Linked DNA regions of Homo sapiens. The protein of the gene in region 2 purifies or fractionates together with the protein of the main gene of each other region. This does not show direct contact. Each region holds a gene or a part of one and is shown on either strand. Other genes may lie near its edges. The genes, in order: SERPINB7, MOGAT3 and SERPINB12.

Region 1 (3,647 bases), on a different chromosome or scaffold from region 2:
TCTATACTATATATTTAATAGAGTAAATGAGCCAGAGTTTCATGAGGAATAGCTGAGCTCCTTTTGGAGCTAAGATAACTCAAGACAAGCCCAGAACGTCTTGTCAGAAAGCAAAAATATTTTAAAGTTATTGGGAAGGATTGTTTAAAAAGATTGGGTTAAAGAGATATCTACTGGCGAAGCTATGACACTTTGAGCATCAAAAAGAAAAAGAAACACAGATCCATGGGAATGCTTAAAAGAGACACACAGATGGAAGCCATAAATTGAGCCGGGATTCATTTAAAATAGAAATGTGTGATTTATGGTGACAAGGGTCGAGTGTAGTAATGAGAAACCAACTGAAGCAGGGGAGAAGCTGAAAATTAATTTCCTAGAAGACATTTACAGAGGATTAAAAATGTGTGCAGATAAATTAGATGAATGTTTTTGTGTCTGTAGTTGCCTTTTCTCCTCTTACATGTTTCTTCATGCAAGATCATAATAGTAAGAGTTATAAAAAGTCACACATGAGAGTAATTGATGAGGCAGTAAAGAGTACAGAGCAAACTCCAGCAGAACAGCAGCTCTCTCAGTTCACCATGACTCATGAGCTGTTGACCCTGGCCCACCAGGCATGAGGTGCAGGGCAAGGAGACTTCAGAAGGTGTACCAGACAGGAGCTGAAAGATTGCTCCTGACATGAAAGCACACAGTAGGTAAGAGCCGTGTGTCTTCTGTTGCATTAAAATCAAGCTTTAGTCATAGGCATGGTGCCTGCACATCATTGTCTAACACATTGAACAGTGACAACTGTAAGGTTTTTTTCTTTATTTGTTTTATCATCAAATCAGCATCCTCCGTGCACAGGTGAGGACACTAGTGCCCACAGAGATGACATGATTTTCCCAAGGTCAGATCTTCGACCCAATCTTCTAACTCCCAGACCAAGGCTATGTTTCCATGATACCAAATCATCTCACTTGGTTCTGAAACATTATGCATTTTTATGAATGAATAAATTTTTATTTGTTGAATGTTTTTCAAGGGCTTTATATTTATTTATCAAAATACCCACTTTAAAATACTGAAGCTTCACAGTGATGTACTTTGAGCTATATTTCAGTTTGGTGGCTTCAGAGCAGTTCTCAACTGGAGACTGATTTTGCTTTTGAGGGCATTCTTTGGAAATATCTGGAAATGTTTTTGGTTGTCATGATGGGGGAGGGGTATGCTGCGGGTAGTTGTTGATGAGAGGCCAGGAATGCTGCTAAATGATGCATAGGACAGCCCCTCACAACAAAGATTTATCCAGCCAAAAATGTCAATAGTGCCAAAGTTGAGAAAACCAGTTGTAGAAGATCATCCTGAGTTTGAATCTCAGGTCCGCCATCTACCAGCACACAGTATGGTCACCCCTCCATAAAATCAGGGTAATATTCCCACTTCAGTGTGTCAATGTGAATATCAAATAAGATCATATTCTTAGGGCTTATCCCAGATCCTGAACACTGATTAAGTTCTCAGCAGATAGTTGTTACTATCATCTCATTAAAGTGTTGTATCCTATGTACTAGGTTGTAAACCGCTCTAGCGCTTGAAAAAAACAGCAGTCTAAGACTCTGTAGTTGTTCTCTAGCAATTAATATTTACTGAGCTATTCAGATAAAGGAAGGAATTATTCTAGCTTAAATTATCCCATAAATGGTTTTCCATATGACCTGAGGTATGACAGGTTACAACAGGCACCAGATTCCTCTGGCAAGCCCTTCAGAACTAAAATAATGGGAGGAATAGTGGGGCAAGAGGTGGGCACAGGGAGGTGGGGGCAGAAAGGGACGACATCAAGGCCTCTGCATGCAGCCTGGACCTGGCATCTCACCTGCTGTTGAGCTACTGAGTTTCAGTGGCAATTTTCTGAGAAGGGAGGGAAACGACCATTCCACTTCCCTATAAAGTGCTCCCAGAGCTGTGTGCACGGGTGTGTTAATAAGCACTCCCTGAAGGTGGCGGTGAAGGTGGTGATGATGACAATGTGAGGACTATTCAGGTAGGCTGCTATTATCTGGAATGTACTATGATGTTTTTGTGCCCCGGTAACCAGTGCTTAAACTGGGATGTCATTGGAATCTCCTTCTAACTCTCCTATCTCAACTGTATCTACTCAGGCAGTGGTTTTCAACCCTTCATGTGCACCTGGAGAGCTCATTAAAACCCAGAGTGCTGGGTCCAACACCCATAGTTTCTGATTCAGTACTTCTGGGGTAGAGCCCAAGCATTTGCATTTCTTTCTTTCTTTCTTTCTTTCTTTCTTTCTTTCTTTCTTTCTTTCTTTCTTTCTTTCTTTCTCTCTCTCTCTCTCTCTCTCTCTCTCTCTCTCTCTCTCTCTCTCTCTTTCTTTCTTTCTTTATTTTCTTTTTGTTTTGTTTGATCGTTTGTTTTCTGAGACGGAGTCTCGCTCTGTCGCCCAGGCTGGACTGCAGTAGCGCTATCTCGGCTCACTGCAAACTCCACCTCCCGGGTTCATGCCATTCTCCTGCCTCAGCCTCCCGAGTAGCTGGGACTACAGGCGCCCGCCACCATGCCCGGCTAATTTTTTGTATTTTTAGTAGAGACGGGGTTTCACCGTGTTAGCCAGGATGGTCTCGATCTCCTGACCTCGTGATCCGCCCGCCTCGGCCTCCCAAAGTGCTGGGATTACAGGCATGAGCCACCGCGCCCGGCCAGCATTTGCATTTCTAACAAGTTCTCCAGGCGGTGCTGATGATCCTGGTCTGGGAAACACACTTTGAGAACCACTGCACTGAGGGAAAACATCAAAGCTGCAGTACTTGGAATATTTCTGCTGCCTCTTGGCTCAAAAACAAGTACTGCAAGCTGTGTGCTTTCTTCACACCCAAAGAGGGCCTCGTGGAGATGTGTGAAGATGTGACACCTTGTGCCTCATGATGACCTCCATTAACATGGGGACCATTGCAACGAAATGTTCTCGTGGGAAAAACAATTTGTCCCAGTGATTAACTGCAAAAGCTGAGACTGACCTTATCAATCTGAGAGAGGGAGTCATCTTGAGCGCCCAAGCGGACCAGGGCCAGGGCAGCGAAGAGGCTCAGAGAGGAAAAGAACACATTTCCATTTCCTTGATTGTCATCCATCTCTCTGAACAGGTTGAAGCAAAACTCTGCATTTGCTGCAGCAAGGGAGGCCATTGCAAAATGGAGTGCAGCCTAGAGGACAATGAGAAAATGAAATTAGTTCCCGGTACATTTTCTAGGAATATTATATTTTTAGATTTATTTATTTTTTATAATTTAAAGCTTCATTTTTTTTCAGCCTTGGAGGTAATCATCAAATAACTCTAACAAAAAGGGAAAAGTTCCCTTGGCCCAGTATCCTTGTCACTAATACCCTAAAACTATCTCTTCTCGTTGGTGGACATTTCTGTCCTCAGTGGCCTGTGAGTGGCCTGTTTCCAACCCCCAAGCAGACACATTCATGGGGCTCACTATTTCTCAAATCACCCCAGATTTCTGAACTGAAATAGAGCAAAAGTAAATATTACAATATTAGACAGTCTATTTGAGGCACTACAGCCTTTGCTTTCTAAACCATCTGTAATTCAATACAATGTTAAATTTTTGAGGTTTAACACATCATTTTTAACCCAT
Region 2 (4,334 bases):
CACGCGCACTCACCCGTGCCTCAGCGCCAGGCGCACGAAGCCTTTGCGCTTCTGGAGCGTAAGGCAGTGCTCCCCGGGGACTGAATACAGGGCCTCGTGCGCACCCCCCACCATGATGACCACGGCCTGCCCGAGCTGGGGCTGGGACAGGATGAAGTCCAGGCTCTGGCGGCTCACCGGACAGAGTCCTGTGGGCAGGAGGAGGTGGAAAGTAGTTCCCATCTGCCTCCACGGCACCCCCGCCCCTCACCCAGCCTTTAGTTCCAAGCCCCCTACCCCCATCTCCAAGGCGGGGAACCTACCCAAATGCTCACTGCAAGTCTGGGCAGTGCTCAGGCTGGCCCCTGTCCTGGGTGGGGGACTTATTATGGGGGGGGGTGGTCCCAGAGGGGCTGGGGAACATCTGGTCAGGAGTCTCCTCCCGTTCTCCTCCTCCCATTCGGCTCACCAAAGGACATGATGTAGTCGCGATAGACCGGGAGGTAGAAGAGGCCAGCCAGCACGGCTAACCAGGGCCGGAGCCCCGGGAAGAGCTGGGAGAAGCCATTGCTCTCGGTGGAGAAATTACAGAGGAAGCCTGTACACATGATCCCATGAGGGTGGGCGCCCAGCACGTAGTTCCGATCCGGGGGCAGCTCTGCTGTTTTCACCAGCTTCGGGGTGTTGAGCAGGATGAAGGGAGGATGGAAGGCAAGACACCGGCTGAAAAGAGGGGCCCTCCACCCCAACAGAGTTCCGAGTTAAAGGTTCTTAGGATAGGGTCAAGGGCCACCCCAGCAGAGTTCCGAGTTAAAGGTTCTTAGGATAGGGTTAAGGGCCCAGGTTTTTTTTTTTTTTTTTTTTGAGATGGAGTCTTGCTCTGTAGCCCAGGCTGAAGTGCAGTGGCACGATCTCGGCTCACTGCAACCTCCGCCTCTTGGTCCCGGTTCAAGCTATCCTCCTGCCTCAGCCTCCCGAGTAGCTGGGATTACAGGCATGCGAAACTATGCCCAGCTAATTTTTGTATTTTTAGTAGAGACGCAGTTTCACCATATTGGCCAGGTTGGTCTTGAACTCCTGACCTCGTGATCTGCCTGCCTTGGCCTCCCACAGTGCTGGGATTACAGGCGTAAGCCACCTCACCCACTCTCTCTTTTTTTCTTTTCTTTTTTTGAGGCAGAGTTTTGCTCCTGTTGCCTAGGCTGGAGTGCAATGGCATCATCTCAGCTCACCACAACCTCCGCCTCCCTGGTTCAAGCAATTCTCCTGCCTCAGCCTCCAGAGTAGCTGGGATTACAGGCATGTGCCACCATGTCCGGCTAATTTGTTTGGTATTTTTAGTAGAGATGGGGTTTCTCCATGTTGGTCAGGCTGGTCTCGAACTCCTGACCTTAGGTGATCCACCCACCTCAGCCTCCCAAAGTGCTGGGATTAAAGGCTTGAGCCACCACAACCGCCTTTTTTTTTTTTTTTTTTTAGAGACGGTCTCACTCTGTTGCTCAGGCTGGAGTACAGTGGCGCAATCATGGCTCACTACAGCCTCCAACTCCTGGGCTCAAGCAATCCTCCCACCTCGGCCTCCCAAAGTGCTTGGATTACAGGCATGAGCCATGGTGCCCCACCAAGGCCCCGCTCTTGAACATCATCCACTCCCAGGCCGGGCGCGGTGGCTCAAGGCTGTAATCCCAGCACTTTGGGAGGCCGAGGTGGCTGGATCACTTGAGGCCAGGAGTTTGAGACCAGCCTGGCCAACATGTTGAAACCCTGTCTCTACTAAACTACAAAAATTAGCCAGGCATGGTGGCGGGCACCTATAATCCCAGCTACTAGGGAGGCTGAGGCATGAGAATAGCTTGAACCTAGGAGGCGGAGGTTGCAATGAGCTGAGATTGCACCACTGCACTCCAGCCTCGGTGACAGGAGACTCAGTCTAAAAAAAAAAAAAAATCCATTCCCTGTCCCACTGCCTGAGCTTAGGCAGCGGGGAGCTCAGGCCCCAGCACAAGGAAGGGCTCCTAGGTGTGGGAGGGAGATGGGGAGAGGTAGGAAGCAGTTTTTCTGCAGGGTGACCCATCACCTTGACAGGATAATAATCCCTTAGTTGTCTCCAAATTGCCCGGTTCCTTATCCACTCCGAACGCCTTCCACCTGCGGACAATGAGATACTGGTGGACGAACCCCCGGAGTCACCTCCCCTCACCCCCCATGTCCCCACCATCTCTGGCTACCTGGGCCCCCATCCGGAGCTCACCTTGGTTGGGTGTGTCCCAGTCCACATAGAGCCACACCAAGTAAAAAACAGAGAAGGGCCAGAGTGACGTGAAGAGGAGGACAAAGACAAGAAGGGAGAAGAAAGGGCCTGGGGGAAGGGAGAGAAAGAAAAGAGTTCACTTCTGAAACTCCATCATTCCCTCCAGCTGCTCCCTTCCCTTCCTCCCCTTCAGAACAACCAGCTCTCTCCTCTGGCCCTCTCCCAGACCAGTCACCTGGTCACTGTCCTCAGGCATGCAAGCCAGCAGCCCAGCCACTCTCCCTCCAAGCCCTACTCCCCTGGCAGACCCCAGGCACCCACGCCTCCCCAGCTCTCACCCATGAAGAGGAAAGTGAGCACATATTGGTAGGCGCCCACTGCTTCTAGATGCTGCTTCTGCAAGGTTTTGGAAGTGGTTGGGGGCTGCAGGGTTGTGGCAACTCCCATTGCAGAAGCTCCCCTCTTCCAGCAGGATCCCAGAACCCGGAGGACAAACGATGAAGGCTTGGATGTGGACCTGGGCAGACTTTCTCCCTACAGGAGCCCAGCTTTGGGGGCCTGGCTAAGTCGCAAATCACCTCCCAGAGTAGCGTGTGTCCGTAGGTGTGTGAGTGGGGAGATCTTTGGATCCAGAGCCCCAGATGTCTCTGGGTTTTTTCTCAGCCTGATCTTTGAACTTCCTGTCAGTCACCAGTCTGGGCTGGCTGCTGGGTGGGGCTGGGAGGCGTAAGGGGTGTGCAAGGGAGAGGTGACACCCGAGTGCCTCAGGAATTGATGTTGGAGTGGACAAGAGTGATCTGGCTAGCCCCACCCACTGGGTCCCAGGTGCTGGAAGGGGCCAGAAGCCCTGCTGAGACTATTTGACCTCCAGTCGGGGTGGGGGCAGGGCCTGGTCCGGGGCATCTCCAGGAATGTCAAGGTCACCACCCCTGCCTGGACCTCCCCCGCCATGCACAAACACACACAGGCTGCAGGTCTGTTTCCCACTTTAATTTTTTTCTTTTTCTTTTCTTTTCTTTTTTTTCTTTTTTTTTCACACGTCTCGGTCACCCAGGCTGGAGAGCAGTGGCACGATCTCGGCTCACTGCAACCTCCGCCTCCCGGGTTCAAACGATTCTCCTGCCTCAGCCTCCCGAGTAGCTAGGATTACAGGCGCGCCACCACGTCTGGCTAATTTTTTTTTTTTTTTTTTTTGGATTTTTAATAGAGATGGGGTTTCACCATGATGGCCAGGCTGGTCTCGAACTCCTGACCTCAAGTGATCCACCCGCCTCGGCCTCCCAAAGTGCTGGAATCACAGGCGTGAGCCACCGTGCCCTGCCGCCAGTCTTTAATTTCACTTCCCCACCTGCAGTCACCCAGCGGACAGGCGAGGCCAGGCGGTGGGGCGCGCCTCCGTGAGGACCAGGTGTCTGTCGGCGGGGACACCATAGCGCGCCTGGTGCTCCTCGAAGAGCTGCGTGAGTCGCCCCACGTAGCGCGCTTGCAGCGTGTCCACCTGGGCCGGACTGGGCGGGGGGCTCTGCTGCACGGGAATCGCCGACCCCACTGCGGGCGGGACGGGAGGCGATCTGGGCTGGGATCCCCGGTTCTCCTCCTCTTTTCCTCCTTGGGGATAGGCGGGAACAGAGTTCAGGGCTGGCGCGGTGGCCAAAGGCCAGTCTGGGTGGCCCCAACCCGGGACGGGGAGGGAGCGGGCCCTGGGCCAGGATCGCGGGGCGGAGGCCGGGGCTCACCTACGGTGCGGATGGGCGCGCGGAAGGGCAGCGGGAGGCCCCGGCGGCCCAGGAACAGCTGCAGGGCCACGCTTAGCAGCGGACGCAGAGCCTCCTGCGTCCTCTGCACCCACGAGCTCTGCGGGTTCGGGAACTGCTGGAAGAGCTCATTCTCCCTGGAGAAGACAGGCACTAGGGAGGCCGCAGGAGAGCATGGCGCGGCTGACTCCTGGCCCCGGGGTCCGCGGGTGGCGCCACTCTCCTCCTCCCCGGCCCGGCAGCCCTGGGGCGTCCCCACCGGGTCACGCTCGGGTCCTCACCCGAGTTCCAGAGCTGACTTAACCAATCTCTTCTGATTCCGAATCGGCAAGCTCAGTTGTCCGGGTTTT
Region 3 (3,608 bases), on a different chromosome or scaffold from region 2:
ATGCTTGCAAGAACTTAATCATATTATCTCTCTTTTATGGAAGAGGAAATTTAACTTCAGAAAATGAGGGCTTGGCCACAGAACTCAACTAATCGACTGAGCTTTGCTGTGCTTTGAACACTTGTCTCTCAAACACCAGAGCACACTGGAACCTGAGTTGTCCCCTAACTTCTTCTAAAGAGGAAAGATATTTGCTTGAAGTTTTAAATGAAATCAGACTATTCTCTAGCTTAGGGAAAGGTCTTGAAGGTTGTCACTGCCCACTGAAAGGGACTCAGGCACCTTGAAGTAATTGGGGCATTCTTTGTGGTCCCATAATCTGATGCTAAATATTATTTCCTTCCTCTTGTAGCTTGAAAGGAAAATCACCTATGAAAAAATGGTGGCCTGGAGCAGCTCAGAAAACATGTCAGAAGAATCGGTGGTCCTGTCCTTCCCCCGGTTCACCCTGGAAGACAGCTATGATCTCAATTCCATTTTACAAGACATGGGCATTACGGATATCTTTGATGAAACGAGGGCTGATCTTACTGGAATCTCTCCAAGTCCCAATTTGTACTTGTCAAAAATTATCCACAAAACCTTTGTGGAGGTGGATGAAAACGGTACCCAGGCAGCTGCAGCCACTGGGGCTGTTGTCTCGGAAAGGTCACTACGATCTTGGGTGGAGTTTAATGCCAACCACCCTTTTCTCTTTTTCATTAGACACAACAAAACCCAAACCATTCTCTTTTATGGCAGGGTCTGCTCTCCTTAAAAGGGGAGCAGTGTCTAGTACTTTGGAGCTGGAGGAAAATATCAATACAATCTTCCCCTGGCATAAGATGGGCATTTGAGTTTTTGGTAATATCTAAAGCATCTCCTTCATCCTCCAGCCATCGGCTTGTGCTTATCTTGATCTTTCTGTCACCCTGTAGCTTATTTTCATCTGAGTCTGTTAGTATTGAAGGGCTGTTGTTCTCTACCCTAAACTTTCAAGCATATAAATTCACCCTCTGTGACCTGAAGGTCAACACAATTCAGAACAGTACCTACCTCCTTTTGAAGGAATCCTAAAAGTTCAGGTCATTAGACCATTTCTAAGAGATGGCAAACTCAGAAGCCACTTTAACATGGGCAGCAAGAGAACATGTTTGACTGGAACGTGTTTGGAAACTCAGCTCTGTTTCTGGGGTAGTTTGACCGGAACGTGTTTGGAAACTCAGCTCTGTTTCTGGGATAGTTATGATTGTGGTCATCACTGGGCGAGATGCCCTGTTTCTTCCTTTGACAGCTACTGCATGGAAGATGTCCTGTGAGGTCTTTTCACCTAGGACAAGGCAGGGCTTGGGCGTATTTAAGTGATAGCTCAAAGATGTGTGACTGCCCCAACCAGCACTCATTTTGCACAGAGCAGGGGAATGATATTTGTCTTGTGATTTTGACACTGACCCAGGAAAGTGGCTAGTGGATTTAGAGGAGGTTTATCTCAGTTTTCCTTATTGAGTCCCCCAACATTATCATCAAACACTTCCCTCTGTCTCTCCTCCCCCTAGCTCCAAGAATTCCCACCTGTGGCTAGCTCCTTTTATGCACCCAGCACAGGCAGGTGTCAAGAGAAGTGCTGCTGGCATTGTGGACGGCTGGCCTCCGTATGCCCCTCTCTCTGCCTTCTGGCCACGTGGAGGCTGGCCTCTGTGTGCCCCTCTCTCTGCCTTCTGGCCACGTGGAGGCTGGCCTCCGTGTGCCCCTCTCTCTGCCTTCTGGCCACGTGGACTTTTGTGTCTTCCGAGAGGTCTCATGCCAGACCACATGGTGACAACAGGCTTGAGCCTGGGCATGGTGTCCATAGCAATGCTTGTTGGCTGGGCATGATGGCTCATGCCTGCAATCCCAGCACTTCTTGGGAGGCCGAGTCAGGTGGATCACTTGAGTCCAGGAGTTCGAGACCAGCCTGGGCAACATATTGAGACCCTGACTCTACAAAAAATACAGAAATTAGCCGGGCGTGGTGGTGTGCACCTATAGTCCCAGCTACTCGGGAGGCTGAGGTGGGAAGATCACTTGAACCCAGGGGATGGAGGCTGCAGTAAGCTGAGATGGCGCCACTGCACTCCAGCCTGGGTGACAGAGCGAAACCCTGTCTCAAAAAACAAACAAACAAAAAACCCAAAAAGCCAAAACAAAACCTGAAACCCTTGTCAAGAAGGCCATTGGGCTCATCTCAAGCTCTAGTCTACTGAAGGCCTGACCTCTGAGTGTTCCTACTCGCGGACTCAGGGCCTCTGTTCTCTGGTGTGGTAATCTGAGTTCCTAATTTCTATCTTAGCTGAATGTTCTGCCATGACCACTGACACGTCCAACTCACATCTCTTTGGAGTCAGTCTCTTTCCTATCGAGGTGGGTTTCAGGTCTTGCTTGCGGCTCAGTTTCCTTGGCCCACCTTGTGGCTGTCCTCCTCCCAGCTGCCACCAGTCGTTCAGTGTGGCCACGCAGTTTTTTTGCAGAAGGCAGGTGAACCACACCTGCTCCCATGCTAGCCTCCTCTTCCTTTTCTCACCTACCCCAGTGATTTCTTTGTGCTCTGAGAGACAAGTTCCATGTTCTCCATACAACCTTCTCATTGTTGAAGCTCACTTACGACCTAAAACAATTTGACGTTGGTAACGTGAGGCAGTTTGAGGCAGTGCCCTATCCAGAATGCATGTCCCATGGGTCAAATTAATTTCAGATAACCAAAAACTTCATGTCCCCTGTGGTTCCTTTTGGGGTTGACGTTTTGGGGGCTGTTTCCATGTCTGACTTGGCACCACTGCCCGACACGTAGCTGGAAACCATGACCTATATATAGGCCTGCACTGCCCGGCATTTCTTTTGTTCTTATTCTTTTACTTGGTAAACACATTTTTTTTTCATTTACATCGGGATTTCTCAGATTTTGAAGCATGAGAGGGAGAATGTATCTATTTACAATAATGAGGAAAATTAAGAATCTTAAATCTTTATGTAAATCAGTAAACATTCTTTACTAACCTTTGATTTATTAAGAAGTTTCTTCTGAATGAATAAAGCACTTTTGTTATTAGTTAAAATATATACGATGTGTTGCCAACTGATTTTTTTAGGGATATAAATTTAACTTCAAACTGTTTCATCCAAAAATATAAAAATACATAATCTATGAAACTAACAATTCATCTCAGTTACACAGGAAAAATACATCTTGCCCCAGTAATAGTTTCTCCCAGCTTTCCATCATAATTACATATGAAGGCATATAAAAAAGATGAAAACTGACAATGCTAAAACCAGAGTGATAGCCAGCTGATCATCAGAATATAGAAGACATTTCTGCCGACTACAGGTTTTTCTTTTTTTTTTGTTTGAGATGTAGTCTTGCACTGTTGCCCAGGCTGGAGTGCAGTGGTGCAATCTTGGCTTACTGCAACCTCTGCCTCCTGGGTTCAAGTGATTCTTAAGCCTCAGCCTGCTGAGTAGCGGGATTACAGGCGCCCGCCACCACGCCCAGCTAATTTTTGTATTTTTAGTAGAGAGGGGGTTTCACCATGTTGGCCAGGCTGGTCCTGAACTCCTGACTTCAAGTGATCCACCTGCCTTGGCCTCCCAAA

The links.
Region 1: the proteins of MOGAT3 (region 2) and SERPINB7 purify together in Homo sapiens (affinity purification with mass spectrometry; one large-scale study listed by BioGRID and IntAct). This does not show direct contact.
Region 3: the proteins of MOGAT3 (region 2) and SERPINB12 purify together in Homo sapiens (affinity purification with mass spectrometry; one large-scale study listed by BioGRID and IntAct). This does not show direct contact.

What each region holds. Positions count from the first base shown.
Region 1 is NC_000018.10:63,781,914-63,785,560, reverse strand, and holds part of SERPINB7 (serpin B7), read right to left. Parts: intron 3,207-3,647; 5' UTR 3,189-3,206; coding exon 3,021-3,188; intron 1-3,020. UniProt on the Homo sapiens protein: Might function as an inhibitor of Lys-specific proteases. Might influence the maturation of megakaryocytes via its action as a serpin.
Region 2 is NC_000007.14:101,198,178-101,202,511, forward strand, and holds the start of MOGAT3 (2-acylglycerol O-acyltransferase 3), read right to left. Parts: upstream 2,860-4,334; 5' UTR 2,678-2,859; coding exon 2,569-2,677; intron 2,339-2,568; coding exon 2,231-2,338; intron 2,128-2,230; coding exon 2,057-2,127; intron 654-2,056; coding exon 449-653; intron 189-448; coding exon 14-188; intron 1-13. UniProt on the Homo sapiens protein: Catalyzes the formation of diacylglycerol from 2-monoacylglycerol and fatty acyl-CoA. Also able to catalyze the terminal step in triacylglycerol synthesis by using diacylglycerol and fatty acyl-CoA as substrates.
Region 3 is NC_000018.10:63,566,255-63,569,862, forward strand, and holds the end of SERPINB12 (serpin B12), read left to right. Parts: intron 1-352; coding exon 353-757; 3' UTR 758-3,075; downstream 3,076-3,608. UniProt on the Homo sapiens protein: Inhibits trypsin and plasmin, but not thrombin, coagulation factor Xa, or urokinase-type plasminogen activator. May play a role in cell differentiation.